Linked DNA regions of Homo sapiens. The protein of the gene in region 1 purifies or fractionates together with the protein of each later gene. This does not show direct contact. Each region holds a gene or a part of one and is shown in the gene's direction. Other genes may lie near its edges.

Region 1 (8,306 bases):
AACAAGTTATCTACAAATTTCAATGTAACTTTCTGGTAGAAGTGCTTCTTCATGGATCTGTGACAGAGAGTGGATATGGTATCTAGGCAATAGATTGCTGGGTCATTTAGAATAATGAAGACTGAACTCCACAGTCGTAGTCAGTGCTGTCTGTCTGCCCTAGCATTAGAAATGAGAGAAATCAGCCAGACACGGTGGCGTACACCTGTAATCCCAGCACTTTGGGAGGCCGAGGCGGGAAGATTGCTTGAGGCCAGGAGCTCGAGACCAACCCTGGGCAACATGGTGATACCCCATCTCTAAAAAAAAAAAAAAAGTTAGCCTGGCATGGTGGTGTGCACCTATAGTCCCAGCTGCCCAGGAGGCTGAGGCGGGAGGATTACCACCTTAAGACCAGGAGGTTGAGACTGCAGTGAGCCATGATTGCACCACTGCACCCCAGCCTGAGCGACAGAGTGAGACTCTATCTCAAAAAAAAGAAACGAAATGAAGAAAGCATTTTGACCAATGATGCTCTTAGATCCTGGCAGCAGGTAAAAATTATGTACCATTTTTTTCCATTCTTTGTCAGAGTAGATTGAAATCTTATTTTTCTTCTCTATTAAGCCTAAGCAGCTACCAGTTGAAAAGATGCTAGGATCTCTTCATTGGATCATTCCACCACTACTGTCCTCTAACCCCATAAAATCAAAAGCGGTTTTTAGTTTGGTTATTCTGATAAAGCACTTAGTCTAATAAAGATCAAAGCCCAGCATCTGCAAGTGAAAATTCTCCTTCTAACATGATTTCTGGGATTTTGCAGCTTTCTACTTAAAAACAAGGCACAATAGCAAGTCACCCCATCTTCCCCATATGTGAAATGGAGATGATGCCAGTGTCCTAGGGCCATCGTACAAATCAAGCTAAGATCATGTACAGAGAAACAGGTAGCGCTTGAAAAGCACTCATGGTTTCTCTCTGATGAGTCAGTGCCTACCTGGCACAGAACAGGTAGTCAATAACTGTTCGTGGAAGAACAGTTTAAAACAAACAAAAACATAGTTCAAGTAGAAAAACCTTTGTTATAATTTGAATAAAGATCTTCTCTGTTAAGGCCTCAAACTTCTGATGTGATTATTGAAGTGCTTTTTACATGCATGTGCTCAGGCCATCACTGTTTCTGAGTATGGGTCAGAGGCCCTTGGGCCTCTTCACGGTGGGAAGAATTTACAACCTCCCTTTGTTCTCTGTAGTGACTAGATTTAAAGCGAAGCATATGACACGTTTAACTGCCATTTCCCTCACACATACCCCTGTTATTTTTACCTGCATTAGAAATGGATTGGCTCCTTCCAGCACCCCTATTATTTGTACCTGTATTAGTAATGAGTTAGCTGTACTTGAGAGGCAGTCTTTACTGACTTTCCCCACATGCACTAGTCCCAGGCTGTTTAACAAAGAAGCGGGTGGAAGGCATTACCCAATTCGATCGTTTTCCAGGCTTGTGTGATTTTTTTTTTGAGGACTCAGATCAATAATTTTTCTGGTCAGACTTTCCTGGACTGTGCATATTAGCACTTTGACAGTTGAATAAGCATTTAATTTGCATGTCCACCTAGAAAGTTGCAAGGGGGGTGTTTTTGAAGTAGAATGTGACATGTCAGGCCTATGGTCTACAGCCTGAAGTGTCTGAGAGGGAAGAAAGAGAACCAAAGCTTCTGTTTCTGAAATATAATGTGACAAATACCACTTTAATTAAATTCCATAAATTCTCATCCCACTTTTAAAGGTAGGTGGTATTACCCCTGTTGTTCAAATGAAAGTGGTCAGAAATATTGAATCTTGTCACTTCCCTTTGGGTGCAAAATGAAAGGCCCTACATCCTTAGAAGTCACATCAGGATACATCATGTAAGCCTGGTAAACAAATCCCAAGAGACATACTTGAAATATGGAAAGGAAACAGGTACTTGAAAGAGTAGGGCACCTTACTAGCTTGAGATGTATTATTCTATGCTCTCAAAATAGATAATGGTTTGGAAGCACGGCTTGGCTTACTGCTATATTTATGTTCAGAGGTTGCTTGTTTTCCACGTACTTTTAAAAACTATTCTGGAAGGGAAGGGGTTAGTATATATATGTGGGATGTGGAAATATAATAGCCAATTTAAATGAACTTAAAGCTGTAACAGTGATACTATCAGTCTACTGTGGTGGGGTTGCTAATGCATTTAACTGAGTGCTTTTTAACAGCCCAGCTGGAGAAACAGGAAGTGGGACAGGATCAGTGGAAACGCTGCTTGGGTATTTGAAATTCAAGCAGTGAGACCTGAGAGACTGGAGTTCCTCGCCAATTCCAGAACCTCAGTGCAGGGCATTACTCTTTTAGATACAAAGATTGGGTGTAGAAACTCCACATCTGTCAGCCACGTAACACAGCCCATCAGATAATCATGTTAAGGCTAACAGCCAGTTCGAAACATTCTGTAGAACTATATCTGTTCAAGGGCTACCAGGTCCTACCTATCTGTCTCACCTCCTGCTTTCTCTTGCTGGGCGTTTGTGTGCTGTTTGGAGATTCTAAATATTTTACACTGATGTTTCTTTATCTTTAACACATTGCTTCTCTCTTTGTGCTTCAGGGAAGATGGTGAAAAAAGTCTGTCCTTGCAACCAGCTCTGTAGTAATTATCTTTTCTGTTATTTTTGGTCCTTGATTGCAAAGCCTGTTAACCATGAGTTCTTTCAACTCTGCAGTCTCATAGCTCCCTGATTCCTAACTTCCATCTATCTCTGTATCCTATTCTAATAAATATTTAACATGCTTAATTGAGAAATCATCTCCTAGTCGGTGCCCTCAGTGATAACCCCATGTGAGCCTAGCTTGTGACAGACATGGATTGGTAATGGCCATGGGTATATATAGGGAGGTCAGGGATGCCTAGTTCCTATGGGAGAGCGATCCTTTGGTCAGCAAATATGTGCCGGGCAGTGTTATTACCCCAACTGGAAACTCAGCAGTGACGAAAGCATACAAAAGTCCATGCCCTCCCACGTTCACACTGAAGTGGGAGATGTGTGCTAGATTGACGAGGAGAAAAACACCACTTTCTAGAGTTTGTCTTCTTAGACTGTGGCTTCTCATACTTTAATGAGAAGGCCACTTACAGTGTTGTAGGTAGGGTCAACAGGGAAATTCTGTACTTGGGATGTTGGGCTGTAAGTTATGGTTCATAATAGGTTATTGTTAGTAGGATCTGGTGATGTGGGAATAGGGGAAATGTATTATAATGGCAGGAGGAAATTTAAAAATGAATCTTGGGGGTAAGTCTATACTACTTATTAGGGCTTTTCAGAAGAACTAAAAAAGGTTAAGAAGTTAGCATATTCTCTCAAAGGCCTTTCTACATCTTTTATAGTCAAGTCTCCTTTTCTTAGGAGTTAATTTCTGGTCAGAAAATGATAGGTTTGTTTCATTCTTTAATGGGAGGCCTGTATACAGAAGCCAGAACGTGAAGGTTTAGCTGTATGGTTGACTCTTCCTCATGGTTTCTCTTTCCTCATAGAGAATCCTGTATTAGGTAATGTAGGGTAAAATGAAAAGTGAAATTTCGTTCTAAAGGGGCCTCGCAGCATCAGGGGCGACAGACTAGAGAGGTGTGTCTCCCAGCATGAGCTCTGTGGATAAGCAATGGTCACGCCTCCTGAGCTTCTTGTATTTAGCTTTTGACAGCTCTGCTCCCCTGTGATTATTTCTGTTTTTTGTTTTGATTGTCTCTCACATCAAGCTCACCAAGCAATAATTGTTCAAACAGGATGACAATCCCCATGCATGTGATATGCTTGCTTTCTAGATTGAGTCACTCACTGTCATGACTGCCCATCCTCATTGCCTGTGCTTCCCACTTCACCACTCTCTCACATTGGCTGTTCATGGAAGGCTGTTTTCTGTGCTCTCATGCTTCTCCCCTCGCGTTTCCTGTACTGTAGGGAGCTTACTCTTCCCTTCACACTGTATGTGCAATAGCAATCCCCTTGTGGCTCCAGCAGACACCAAGAAATGAGCTGACACTCACACTGCAGTAGTTCCGTGTCTTGCCATAGCGGTAAGAAGCATGTGACCTTCCTCACTGCAGCTTCACCTCAGAATTAGCTGTTACTGCAGCACAGACCTGCTTGTGTGTGCCATTCCCCAGGTGGTAGGATATAAGCTTGACTTGAGACCAGCGATGGTCAGTAACAGGCTTTGAAGTGGCAGGATTGCGTTAGGTGTGCTGCTGTGATCTGGTGCTGCTTTGACCTTGAAAGCAGGATAACGCATGCACTTACTTACCCCCGCATTACTTGGGTACCTTAAGGACTAGTGGTTCACAACTTACTTTAGGAGCTTTTATTTATTCTGTAACACGTGAGATCTGGTAAGACAGTGGGGGGTAAGGAAAACAGACAAGACCATGACTCTTCTTTCCCTCTTCCCCAAAACGTGCCTCTTGGAATAATCTTCAGTGTGCCCTCCAGCAGAGCCGAAATCAGGCAGGCATAGACTCCCTCCTCTCTCATCAAACCGCAGAAATAGAGTTCCTTCATCATAACCGCAAAGCTTCCTCCTCCCCTTTGCACCCTGCCTCAGCTGCATTTTCTTGTCGCTTCTACATGGGAGTGCTTGCTGTTCTGGGAAGAGTGGGGAGAAGCGGTGGGAATCCTTGAGCCAATTGAAACTGAGGTCATCTTCAGGAAAACCATGTCTTCCTGAAGTTGAAAGATTCAGGCACACCATACAGTCCTTTCCTCATGAATAATCTTGTTCTTTACTCATGGGAAATTGGGAGAGGTTAACCCCTCCCAAGTTTATGTTTGCAAATTCATGTTTATGGGTCCAGGTGAAAAACTTTTCTGAACACAGCATGCTACTTCTCTTATTACCTCTCTCTATTTAAAGAATGGCTAGGCTGAGCATGGTGGCTCACACCTGTAATCCCAGCACTTTGGGAGGCTGACATGGCAGGATTGCCTGAGCCCAGCAGTTCATGACTAAGCAACATATGGAGATTCTGTCTATATAAAAAAGTAAAAAATTAACTGGGTGTGGAAGTGCATACGTCTAGTCCCAAGCTACTTGGGAGGCTGAGGCAGGAGGAGTTGGAGGCTGCAGTGAGACGTGATTGTGCCGCTGTATCCAGCCTGGGTGACAGAAAAAGAAGAGACCCTTCCTTTAAAAAAAAAAAAAAGCCGGGCGTGGTGGCTCACGTCTGTAATCCCAGCACTTTGGGAGGCCAAGGCGGGCGGATCACCTGAGGTCAGGAGTTCTTGAGACCAGCCTGGCCAACACGGCAAAACCCTGTCTCTACTAAAATACAAAAATTAACTGGGCATGGTGGTGCACACCTACAATCCCAGCTACTCTGGAGGCTGAGACAGGAGAATCGCTTGAACCCAGGAGGCAGGGGTTGCAGTTAGGTAGGATCGTACCACTGCACTCCAGCCTGAGTAATAGAGTGAGACTCCATCTCAAAAAAAAAAAAAAAGGCTAAAGAATGTGGCAGTGTCCAATGGTTTGGAAACCCACCTTCTCCTTATCCTTAGCCAAGCATCTTTTCCTACTCCTACTTTAACCGTGCCCAATGCACAAGAAAACCTCTTTTTCCCTGCATTCTGCAAAATTCCAGAGCAACTAGCCTTGCTGATTGTATCACACCTCCATCAGCAACGTGATGCTGGGAATAGCGTACTGGCGAGCAGTTCCAATACTCTTAGGTGCTTTGTGAATGGACTGAAAGAGGCCCCTGCCTGTGTACCTACCGTCATCCTGAGTTGTTCAGCCTTAGCAGCAGCTACTGAAGAGAAACTGTTTTCATCACCCTATTATACCAAAACAAATGGCTAAACAAAACCTTGGAATCTTCCCTCTTGCATGGCTTCCCAGTTCATCCTCTTCTCATTCTGTGGCTTGCCATTCATCATCCCGTGAAGTTTTCCCTCTTCCTGAAATTGTAACCTAGGCTTCTTTTAATGCTCGTATTCTGTTGCTTATAATAGGAACCAGCAGCACAAACACTGTTGGGGCAACAGTGAACAGCCAAGCCGCCCAAGCTCAGCCTCCTGCCATGACGTCCAGCAGGAAGGGCACATTCACAGATGACTTGCACAAGTTGGTAGACAATTGGGCCCGAGATGCCATGAATCTCTCAGGCAGGAGAGGAAGCAAAGGGCACATGAATTACGAGGTAAGTCTCTCTTTTGCCGCAGAGAATCCGTAACACACATCTGAGTCAAGGTGATAGAAACAACTAAGCTGCTGCTTAACGTCTTACGCCACGACCTTCTTCAATTTTAATACTTTAGAAAAACAAGGCAAAAATCCCCCAGGTACCCTTTTATTTTTCCTTCCCTGAATTCCTAACCTCTTGTTGGTCAGCTCAACTTTTTCTTCTTCGTTTTTCCTTCGTCATCCTCAACTACACACACACAGACACACACGCACATGACATCCCTCCCTCTCATGAGGATTATTTTCACCCTTACTTGGTAAATATAAAGAGCCAATAAATACTACAGAAGACTGTTCTGCTGTATCTTACAGGATTATACTAGAAGTATATGTTAGCGCCACACATTTTATACCATGGCCCACACCAGACTTGACACGTGGTGGTTTTGTTTTCAGGGCCCTGGAATGGCAAGGAAGTTCTCTGCACCTGGGCAACTGTGCATCTCCATGACCTCGAACCTGGGTGGCTCTGCCCCCATCTCTGCAGCATCAGCTACCTCTCTAGGTCACTTCACCAAGTCTATGTGCCCCCCACAGCAGTATGGCTTTCCAGCTACCCCATTTGGCGCTCAATGGAGTGGGACGGGTGGCCCAGCACCACAGCCACTTGGCCAGTTCCAACCTGTGGGAACTGCCTCCTTGCAGAATTTCAACATCAGCAATTTGCAGAAATCCATCAGCAACCCCCCAGGCTCCAACCTGCGGACCACTTAGACCTAGAGACATTAACTGAATAGATCTGGGGGCAGGAGATGGAATGCTGAGGGGGTGGGTGGGGGTGGGAAGTAGCCTATATACTAACTACTAGTGCTGCATTTAACTGGTTATTTCTTGCCAGAGGGGAATGTTTTTAATACTGCATTGAGCCCTCAGAATGGAGAGTCTCCCCCGCTCCAGTTATTGGAATGGGAGAGGAAGGAAAGAACAGCTTTTTTGTCAAGGGGCAGCTTCAGACCATGCTTTCCTGTTTATCTATACTCAGTAATGAGGATGAGGGCTAGGAAAGTCTTGTTCATAAGGAAGCTGGAGAACTCAATGTAAAATCAAACCCATCTGTAATTTCGAGTGGGTGGAGCTCTTGCTTTTGGTACATGCCCTGAATCCCTCACTCCCTCAAGAATCCGAACCACAGGACAAAAACCACCTACTGGGCTCTCTCCTACCCTGCCCTCCTCCCTTTTTTTTACCCCTCTCTTTTTTATTTTTTCTTTGCTCTTTAGAACCCAGTGAAAAATACCAGGGTACTGGGGTGCAACTCTTTCTTATGATAGGTCATTAGTGCTTTAAGCAAAAGATATTAGCAGCTTTGACTGCAGCATTAGCAATTAGGAAAAAAAAAAAATTAAGTTCCCTGCGGACATGTAACTTTGCCATCAGTTTTGATGTGGAAACACTGTGATATATAAAATGTTGTTGGACAACAGTAGTTTTAAGAGTAAAATATGAAACGTTTAAAAAGTTCCAAAAAAAGCTAGCTCTGTCCTTTACTTATTGAGACACTTTAACTTTTTCCTTTGTATTTCCATTGTATTAGATAAATAAATGTGAATGTAAAATTGTATAAATTACTGTACTTGAATACTTCTGTTTCCCAGTGTTGCTTGCTGGACATTTTAGTGCCTTGGACTTCTATTGCTTCTGCCATTAGCATCAACTTACCAGACCCCAGATCAATAAAGGGCATGTGGAAGGAAATCGTAGGTCCATGTGACCCCAGCAGTCCAGCAGTGGTTATGCCAAAGGGAAATTGAAAAAGTATTTTTTTAAGTCATTCAACAACTTTGTCTAGAGCAGGTGTAAGATGAGTAGGGTGGGAAGTTAGGTTGGCATCAGTGGTTAAAAACAGAAAGTTCTGTTTCGGGAATAGTGAGGAGGGGGTGTTGTAACAAAATTGGACAACTTAAAAGAATGGTGTGTGCTGGGTGAAAGACAAAGACTAAAGAATGAGGAAACAAACGTGATGCCTGGCCAGTGACTGTCATATAAACCTTTCTTATTTGAGCTAGGCTTGAACAGACGTGACCTAGAAGAAACTGAACATAAAGAGAAGGGGGTGGGGG
Region 2 (8,306 bases), on another chromosome or scaffold:
GAAATATTTAAGGAAACCCAAAATTTTAACTTTAGGATAGTAAACTCAAAAAGATATTTTATTTTTTTTGAGACAGAGTCTCCTTCTTTCACCCAGGCTGGAATGCAGTGCCATGATCTCAGGCTCACTGCAACCTCTGCCTCCGAGGTTCAAGCCGTTCTTCTGCTTCAGCCTCTGGAGCAGCTGGGGTTACGGGTGTGCACCACCACGCCCAGCTAATTTTTGTATTTTTAGGAGAGTCAGGGTTTCACCATGTTGGTCAGGCTGGTCTTGAACTCCTGAGATCAGGTGATCCACACGCCTCAGCCTCCCAAACCCAAAGTGCTGGGATTACAGGTGTGAGCCACCACAACCGGCCTCACAAAGATATTTTAAATGGCTATTGAAAAGAGTACATATAGGCCAGGTGCAGTTGCTCACGCCTGTATTACCAGCCCTTTGGGAGGCTGAGGTGGGTGGATCACCCGAGATCAGGAGTTCAAGACCGGCCTGGCCAACATAGCAAAACCCCGTCTCTACTAAAAATACAAAAATTAGCTGGGCGTGGGGGCACGGTGCCTGTAATTCCAGCCACTCAGGAGGCTGAGGGAGGAGAATCACTTGAACCAGGGAGGAGGAGGCTGCAGTGAGCTGAGATCGCGCCACTGCACTCCAGCCTGGGTGACAATCAGAGACTCCATCTTAATAAATATAAATAAATGAATAAAGAAATAAATAAATAAAGCAATTAAAAGACACTTGTGGCTGGATGTGGTAGCTCACGCCTGTAATCCCAGCATTTTGGGAGGCTGAGCTGGGAGGGGAACACTTGAGCCCAGGAGTTCTAACCAGCTTGGCTTGACCAACATGGTGAGACTCTATTTTTTAAAGAAATGTATATATATATATACATTTATGATTCTGATAAAATATTATTCTTTTAAAAGTTAAAGTACGAAGAGTTGTAAAAACAGATAAAACACCCATGATACTAACAATAAACACAGCAGTTTCTATTTTGCCTCTTAACTCTCCTACTTTATGTCTATAGTGTTTCTGTGTATATATATATGTATATATATATATGTATATATATAAAATATATATGTATATGTATATATGTATATGTATAAATATATATGTATATATATAAAATATATATGTGTATATAAAATATATATGTATATATAAAATATATATGTGTATATATATATTTTTTTTGTTTGTTTGTTTGTTTGTTTTTTGAGACAGAGTTTTCACTCTTGTTGCCCAGGCTGGAGTGCAATGGCATGATCTTGGTTCACCACAACCTCCACCTCCAGGGGTCAAGCGATTCTCCTGCCTCAGCCTCCTGAGTAGCTGGGATTACAGGTGCCCAACACTACACCCAGCTAATTTTTGTGTTTTTTGTAGAGATGGGGTTTTGTCATGTTGACCAGGCTGGTCTTGAACTCCTGGGCTCAGGTGATCTGCCTGCCTCGACCTCCCAAAGTGCTGGGATTACAGGCGTGAGCCACTGCACCCGGCCTATAGTTAGTACATATGTTTTTACATTTGTGATTATAGCAATTAAACAGTTTTGTATTTGGCTTTTCTCATATAATTATGTTCTAAATATTTTTCATATTTTCACAGTCTTCATAATACTTAATTTTAGTGATAGCAAAATATTCTATCAAGTAATATAATAAATTGCTTAAACATTATTGCTATTGCAATTTTAGTTTATCCTCAGTGTTTTTTAAAAAGTTAATTGCAGGCTGGGCATGGTGGCTCACACTTGTAATCCCAACACTTTGGGAAGCCAAAGTGGGAGGATCGCCTAAGGCCAGGAGTTTAAGACCAGTCTGGGCAATATAGCAAGACCCTGTCTCTACAAAACAATTTAAAAATAATTAGCCAGTCATGGTGGTGCACGCCTGTAGTCCCAGCTACTTGGGAGGGCTGAGGTGGGAGGATCGCTTGAGCCTAGGAGGTTAAGGCTGCAGTGAGCTGTCATCGTGCCAATGCACTCCAATCTGGGGAACAAAACAAGACCCTTTAACAACAACAACAACAAAAATAATAATAATAATAATTGTAGCATCACTAACTAAAATTCAGTACTGTGATTTTACTTCTTTGTCCTTTTGCTATAGGCTAATTTCACTAATTGGTTGAATATAAAAGAATCCTCAGGAGTTTTGAAGAGCATGAAAGTGAAATAGTAAATCAAAATAAATTTCAAGCACCAGTGACCATAAGTCTTAACAACACTTCAGTGCTTCTTAGAAAATTGCATGCTCATGGCCAGGCGCAGTGGCTCAAGCCTGTAATACCAGCACTATGGGAGGCCAAGGTGGGCGGATCATGAGGTCAGGAGATCGAGACCATCCTGGCTAACACGATGAAACCCGGTCTCTACTAAAAATACAAAAAATTAGCCAGGCATGGTGGCAGGTGCCTGTAGTCCCAGCTACTCGGGAGGCTGAGGCAGGAGAATGGCGTGAACCCAGGAGGCAGAGCTTGCAGTGAGCTGAGATCGCGCCACTGTACTCCAGCCAGGGGCAACAGAGCGAGACTCTGTCTCAAAAAAAAAAAAAAAGAAAGAAAAGAAAATTGCATGTTTATAAACTCTGGATTCAAGGTGCCTGGATCCCGCCTTTACTCCATAACAACACTGTGCCCTGGGGAAATTTGCTTCACATCTCTATGCGTTTGTTTTTCCATCTGTATAATGGGATTGAAAATAGTACCTTTCTTATAAAACTTTTCTGAGGACTAATTAATTAATTTTTTATTCTTCATTTACTTATTTATTTTCTTTTGTAGAGATGGGGTTTTGCTATGTTGGCTAGGCTGGTCCCAAAATCCTGGCCTCAAGTGACCTGCCTGCCTTAGCCTCCCAAAGTTTAAAGTGCTGGGATTACAGGTGTGAGCCACCTCACCCTGCCTGTTCTGAGGATTAAAAACTATACACATCAAACACTTTAAAAAGTGCCTTGATTTTTGAAATGCTGTATAAATACCATGCCTGTTAATATTAGAATAGCTTTATACTTCTTTCTGTATCTTATAGGGATTTTACAAGCAAGCAAGACAAGTGGTGAGTTTTAGAACTTTAAAAACAAACTTGAGCTAATTTCTTAGCCAGAAGCAATTTCTTTTATAATCAAAGTTGTGCAGTAGTATATATGGGCCGGATTCAGTGGCTCATGCCTGTAATCCCAACACTTTGGGAGGCGGGAGGATCACTTGAGCCCAGGAGTTTGATACCAGCCTGCGCAACTTAGTGAGACCTCATCTCTACAAAAAAAAAAAAAAATTAGTAGTGTGATGGTGCGAGCCTGTGGTCTCAGCTACTCCAGAGGCTGAGGTGAGAGGATTGCTTGAGCCCAGCAGTTCAAGACTGCAGTGAGCCATGATTAGGCCACTGCATTCCATCCTGGGTGACAGAGGAAGATCCTGTCTCAATAACAATAATAATAGTGAATATGTATTTGCTTAGCAATGGATTAGATTGTAAACTATGAGATTAGTATTTTCCCTTGTAAGAATAACTAGTAATTCACCTTAGAAATGTGTGAACTAAATTTCTGTCATCATAATCATAATAATAAGGGTCAAAGTAAAATAGTCACTATCTATTGGGCACCAAACATGTGCCAGGCAAAGTACTTGAACATTGTAAAACATGGTAGCATTTTCACAGCTTGGGAGGAAATATTATTACCTGAATCTTACAAATGAGGAGACAGGCTGGGCACAGTGACTTATACCTGTGATCCCAACACTTTAAGAGGCAAAAGGATCTTTTTCTTTAAAAAAAAAAAAAAGTTATTTTTTTCGTAGAGACAAAGTTTCGCTATTTTGCCCAGGCTGGTCTCAAACTCCTGGGCTAAAGCAGTCCTCCTGCCTTGGCCTCCCAAAGTGCTATTTAGATATAAACCATCTCGCCTGGCCAGGGTAATTGTTTTTGTTTGTTTTTGGGTTTTGAGGGTTTGTTGTTGTTGTGTTGTTGTTGTGGTTGGAGACAGTCTTGCTCTGTCACCCAGGCTGGAGTGCAGCGGGGCTATCTCAGCTCACTGCAACCTCCGCTTCCCAGGTTCAAGCGATTCTCCCAAGCAGCTGAGATTATAGGCGTGTACCACCAGGCCTGGCTAATTTTGGTATTTTTAGTAGAGATGGGGTTTCATCATGTTGGCAGGCTGGTCCAGGAGGATCTTTTAACACCAAGACCAGCCTGGGCAACAGAGTGAAACCCCCCTATCTCTAAAAAGAAAAAAATTCTAACCCCACTGGAAGCAGGAGGAAAAAGAAAAGAAAAAAATAATGTGAAAAAAAAATGCGGAGACAGACTCAGCAAGATGAAATGACCAGCCATGTAATGCATACTCTAGGAAAGAGACTGAACAGCATTGACCAATTCGAATTGTGTTGAGTTTGAAAGATAGACAGGTTGTGAGACCGAGTTCTCCTTTCATGAGCTCCCATCCCACCAGATTTCCCACCAAATCCCCAATAAACATCAAAGGGAGTCAAACACATTTGTTTTTTCTTTCCTTTTGCACATTGCAGGTACGAAGGTGGATCAAGAGCCCAATGGTCAGTGTGGACAAGCATCAGAGTCCCAGCCTGAAGTACACCGGCTCCTCCATGGTGCACATCCCTCCAGGGGAGCCAGACTTCGAGTCTTCCTTGTGTCAAACATGCCTGGGTGAACATGCTTTCCAAAGAGGGGTTCTCCCTCAGGAGAACGAGTCATGTTCATGGGAAACTCAATCTGGGTGTGAAGTAAGTTCATGTTCGCTCTGGATCTATTCTCCTGGAAAAATTCTGGGCCTTTGTTTTTCTTGTATTTCTGCCAGAGTATACCCAAAAAATAATTTTTTAATGCATATTTATAAAGCTTCTGAGGAAGACCTAGAATTGTGGTCTTTGTTAGCTCATTATGTTATTTTTTTAAAGTAGGCTTTATATTTTAGAGCAGCTTTAAGTTCACAGCAACATTGAGCAGAAGGTACAGAGATTACCCATATACGCTTGTCCCCATGCACGTATAACCTACTTTGCCATCAACATTCCCTAGCAGAGTTTTATGTTAGAGTTCACTCTTGGTGTTATACATTCTATGGGTTTGGACTAATGTATAATAACATGCATCCACCATTACAGTATCATACAGTTAAGTTTCACTGCCCTAAAAATCCTCTGCCCTCCACTATTCATCCCCTCCTTACCCTGACCCCTAGCAACCACTGATCTTTTTACTGTCTCCATAGATTTGCCTTTTCCAGAATGTCATCTAGCTGAATCATGCAGTATGTTGTATTAATGTTTTACGTGGGTCCAAGACTGATACAGCAATGTGTTGGTAAACTGGCAATTCCTCAGAAGTGGTTTGATCACACAGGAGATCAAGTCTTAGATGATACAACGATTGTAATAGTCATCTACATGTTCGTAGCTTCCATTGAAATATTTAGTTCAACACGATTTGATCCATTTACAGAGCACTATGTATACTTTTCATTATTTTTCTCAAGCTCATATATACTCACATTTTTACTAAGACTTATTTTCCCTGCTACTCCAAGAGTTGTTTTTTAAAAATTTTGTTAATCCAAGAAAACCAGATAACTGATTCATCTTGCAGTTTCTAAGATTTCAAAAATTTAAGATTATATTTTTAACTTATAACTTAATTAGGCCCATATTTATTTTGATTTTTAAAACCATTATATAAAATGCTTATATTATTTTTACCATCATACTGACATAAAAATACAATATTTAGAAGACAGAACATGTTATTACAAAGTACAGTTAATTGTAAGTGATCTTCCAAGTCAGTGCATCATAGAATGATAAACGTTAATAACCGCTCACCTTTTTTATTTTTAGCAAGGTAACCATTTTCCAGAGATAAAATAATCATTTAGCTGCTAAAAGACTGAAGACATTAAATCTGAGTTCCTTTTCACTCTGAGTTATCACGCAATGTCGCTGAATCTGTTTCATAATTTGTCTACTTTCTTTCTTTCTTTTTTTTTTTTTTTTGAGTTTCACTCTTGTTGCCCAGACTGGAGTGCAATGGCACGATCTCGGCTCACTGCAACCTCCGCTTCCTGAGTTCAAGTAATTCTTCTGCCTCAGTCTCCCGAGTAGCTGGGATTACAGGCACCCAACACCACGCCTGGCTAATTTTTGTATTTTTAATAGAAACAGGGTTTCTCTATGTTGGTCAGGCTGGTGTCAAACTCCCAACCTCAGGTAATCCACCTGCGTCGGCTTTCCAAATTGCTGGGATTACAGGCATGAGCCACTACGCCGGCCCTTTTTTTGGGGGGGGTGGGGGTCGGGGACAGGGAGACAGGGGGACAGAGTCTTGCTCTGTAACCCTGACTTGAGTGCAGTAGTGCAATCATAACTCACTGTTACCTCAAACTCCTAGGTTCAAGTGATCCTCCCACCTCAACCCTCCCAAGTAAATAAGACCACAGGCATACGCCAACAAACCTGGCTAATTAAAAAAAAAAAATTTTTTTTGTAGAAACAGGGTGTTGTCATACTGACCAGGCTGGTCTTGAACTCCTGGCTTCAAGTGATCCTCCCAAAATGCTGGGATTATAGGTATGAGGCACAATGCCCAGCCTACTTGTCTACTTTCTACGGTTATTGGAAAAATCAAATGAGATTGATATGAAATGTTTCATAATCTATAGAATGCCATGCAAATATAAATCATTATTGCTCATGTTTGCTGATTTACATATTAGCTAAGCCTGTGACTCTGTAACACTATATTAGACTTCCATAACTGGGTTAGCACTTTGCTGATCCATGAACATTTGTCATGGTGCATTTGCTTTTTAGCCAGATGTTGGTTCAACTCTAGGTTTGTCATGAAAAACAATAAAGACGCTAAATGCAAGAGCATCTATTTATCGCTCCTGATGCAAGGGATAGAGTCAACTTTTTATCTAAACGGCCAGATAGTAAATATTTTAGCCTTTGCCTAAAATACAGTCTCTAACTTCTATTTAGCTCTGCCCTTCTAGGGAAAGCAGCCATAGATAATATGTAAATGAATGGACACAGCTCTCCCAGGTTGGAGTGCAGTGACGAGATCTCAGCTCACTGCAACCTCCACCTCCCAGGTTCAAGCAATTCTCCTGCCTCAGCCTCCTGAGTAGCCGGGATTACAGGCATCTGACACCACACCCGGGTAATTTTTTTTTTTTTTTTTAGTAGAGATGGGGTTTCACCATGTTGGCCAGGCTGGTCTTGAACTCCGGACCTCAAGTGATCTGCCTGCCTCAGCCTCCCAAAATGCTGGTATTACAGGCCTGAGCCACTGCGCCCAGCCTGAGTTTGCCAATTTCTTAGACTCTAAAGAACTATTTATGACTTAGAAGCAGAGAGAGGGTTCTACATATCCTATACAGAGCACACATGCCTAGTGCTAAATGTTTACTTGAGGGCCTACTCTATGTCCCATTTGATAGGAGCTGGGTTTAAATCAATGCAACAGTGAAATTCCACACAAAAGGAAACAATAAACAAAGCTGAAAGGAATTTAAAGCAACATTGTGATTTACCCTTTTCCTTTATCTTAGATAGCAGGTAAATCATTCTCCAATTTGCAATCGATTACCTGGTTCCCAGACTTTGCTGGCTTTTTCCTAAGGTTATCACAAATCAAAATGACACATACTTTATTTTATTACTTTTTTTTTGAGACAAGGTTTTGCTCTACTGCCCAGGCTAGAGTGTAGTGGTGCAATCATGGCTCACTGCAGCCTCGACCTCCAGGGCTCAAGCAGTGGTCCCACCTCAGCCTCCCAAGTAGCTGGGACTACACGCCCCATGCACCACTATGCCCAGCTAATTTTATTTTATTTTATTTTATTTTTTGTGGAGACAGGTTGGTATCAAACTTCTGGGTTCAAGAGATCTGCCCCCGCTTGGGTGTTCGGATTACAGGCCTAAGCCTTTTTATTTATTTTATTTTATTTTTGAGATGGAGTCTCGCCCTGTCACCCAGGCTGGAAAGCGCAGTGGCGCGATCTCGGCTTACTAGAATCTCTGCCTCCCAGGTTCAAGTGATTCTCCTGCCTCAGCCTCCTAAGTAGCTGGGATTACAGGCACCCGCCACCACGCCTGGCGAATTTTTGTGTTTTTAGTAGAGACAGAGTTTCACCATGTTGGCAAGGCTATTCTCAAACTCCTGACCTCAGGTGATTCGCCTGCCTCGGCCTCCCAAAGTGCTGGCATTACAGGTGTGAGCCACCATGCCAGGTGGGTTTTTTTTATTATTATTATTTTAATCGTTAAAATATGCATCA

What was found. Proteins that work in one complex are often made in the same cells at the same time.
Region 2: the proteins of WNK1 (region 1) and SGK1 purify together in Homo sapiens (affinity purification with western blotting, with the first as the bait; 2 studies listed by BioGRID). This does not show direct contact.

The regions. Positions count from the first base shown.
Region 1 is NC_000012.12:901,833-910,138, forward strand, and holds part of WNK1 (serine/threonine-protein kinase WNK1), read left to right. Parts: intron 1-6,014; coding exon 6,015-6,202; intron 6,203-6,642; coding exon 6,643-6,960; 3' UTR 6,961-8,306. UniProt on the Homo sapiens protein: Serine/threonine-protein kinase component of the WNK1-SPAK/OSR1 kinase cascade, which acts as a key regulator of blood pressure and regulatory volume increase by promoting ion influx.
Region 2 is NC_000006.12:134,258,379-134,266,684, reverse strand, and holds part of SGK1 (serine/threonine-protein kinase Sgk1), read left to right. Parts: intron 1-4,536; coding exon 4,537-4,752; intron 4,753-8,306. UniProt on the Homo sapiens protein: Serine/threonine-protein kinase which is involved in the regulation of a wide variety of ion channels, membrane transporters, cellular enzymes, transcription factors, neuronal excitability, cell growth, proliferation, survival, migration and apoptosis.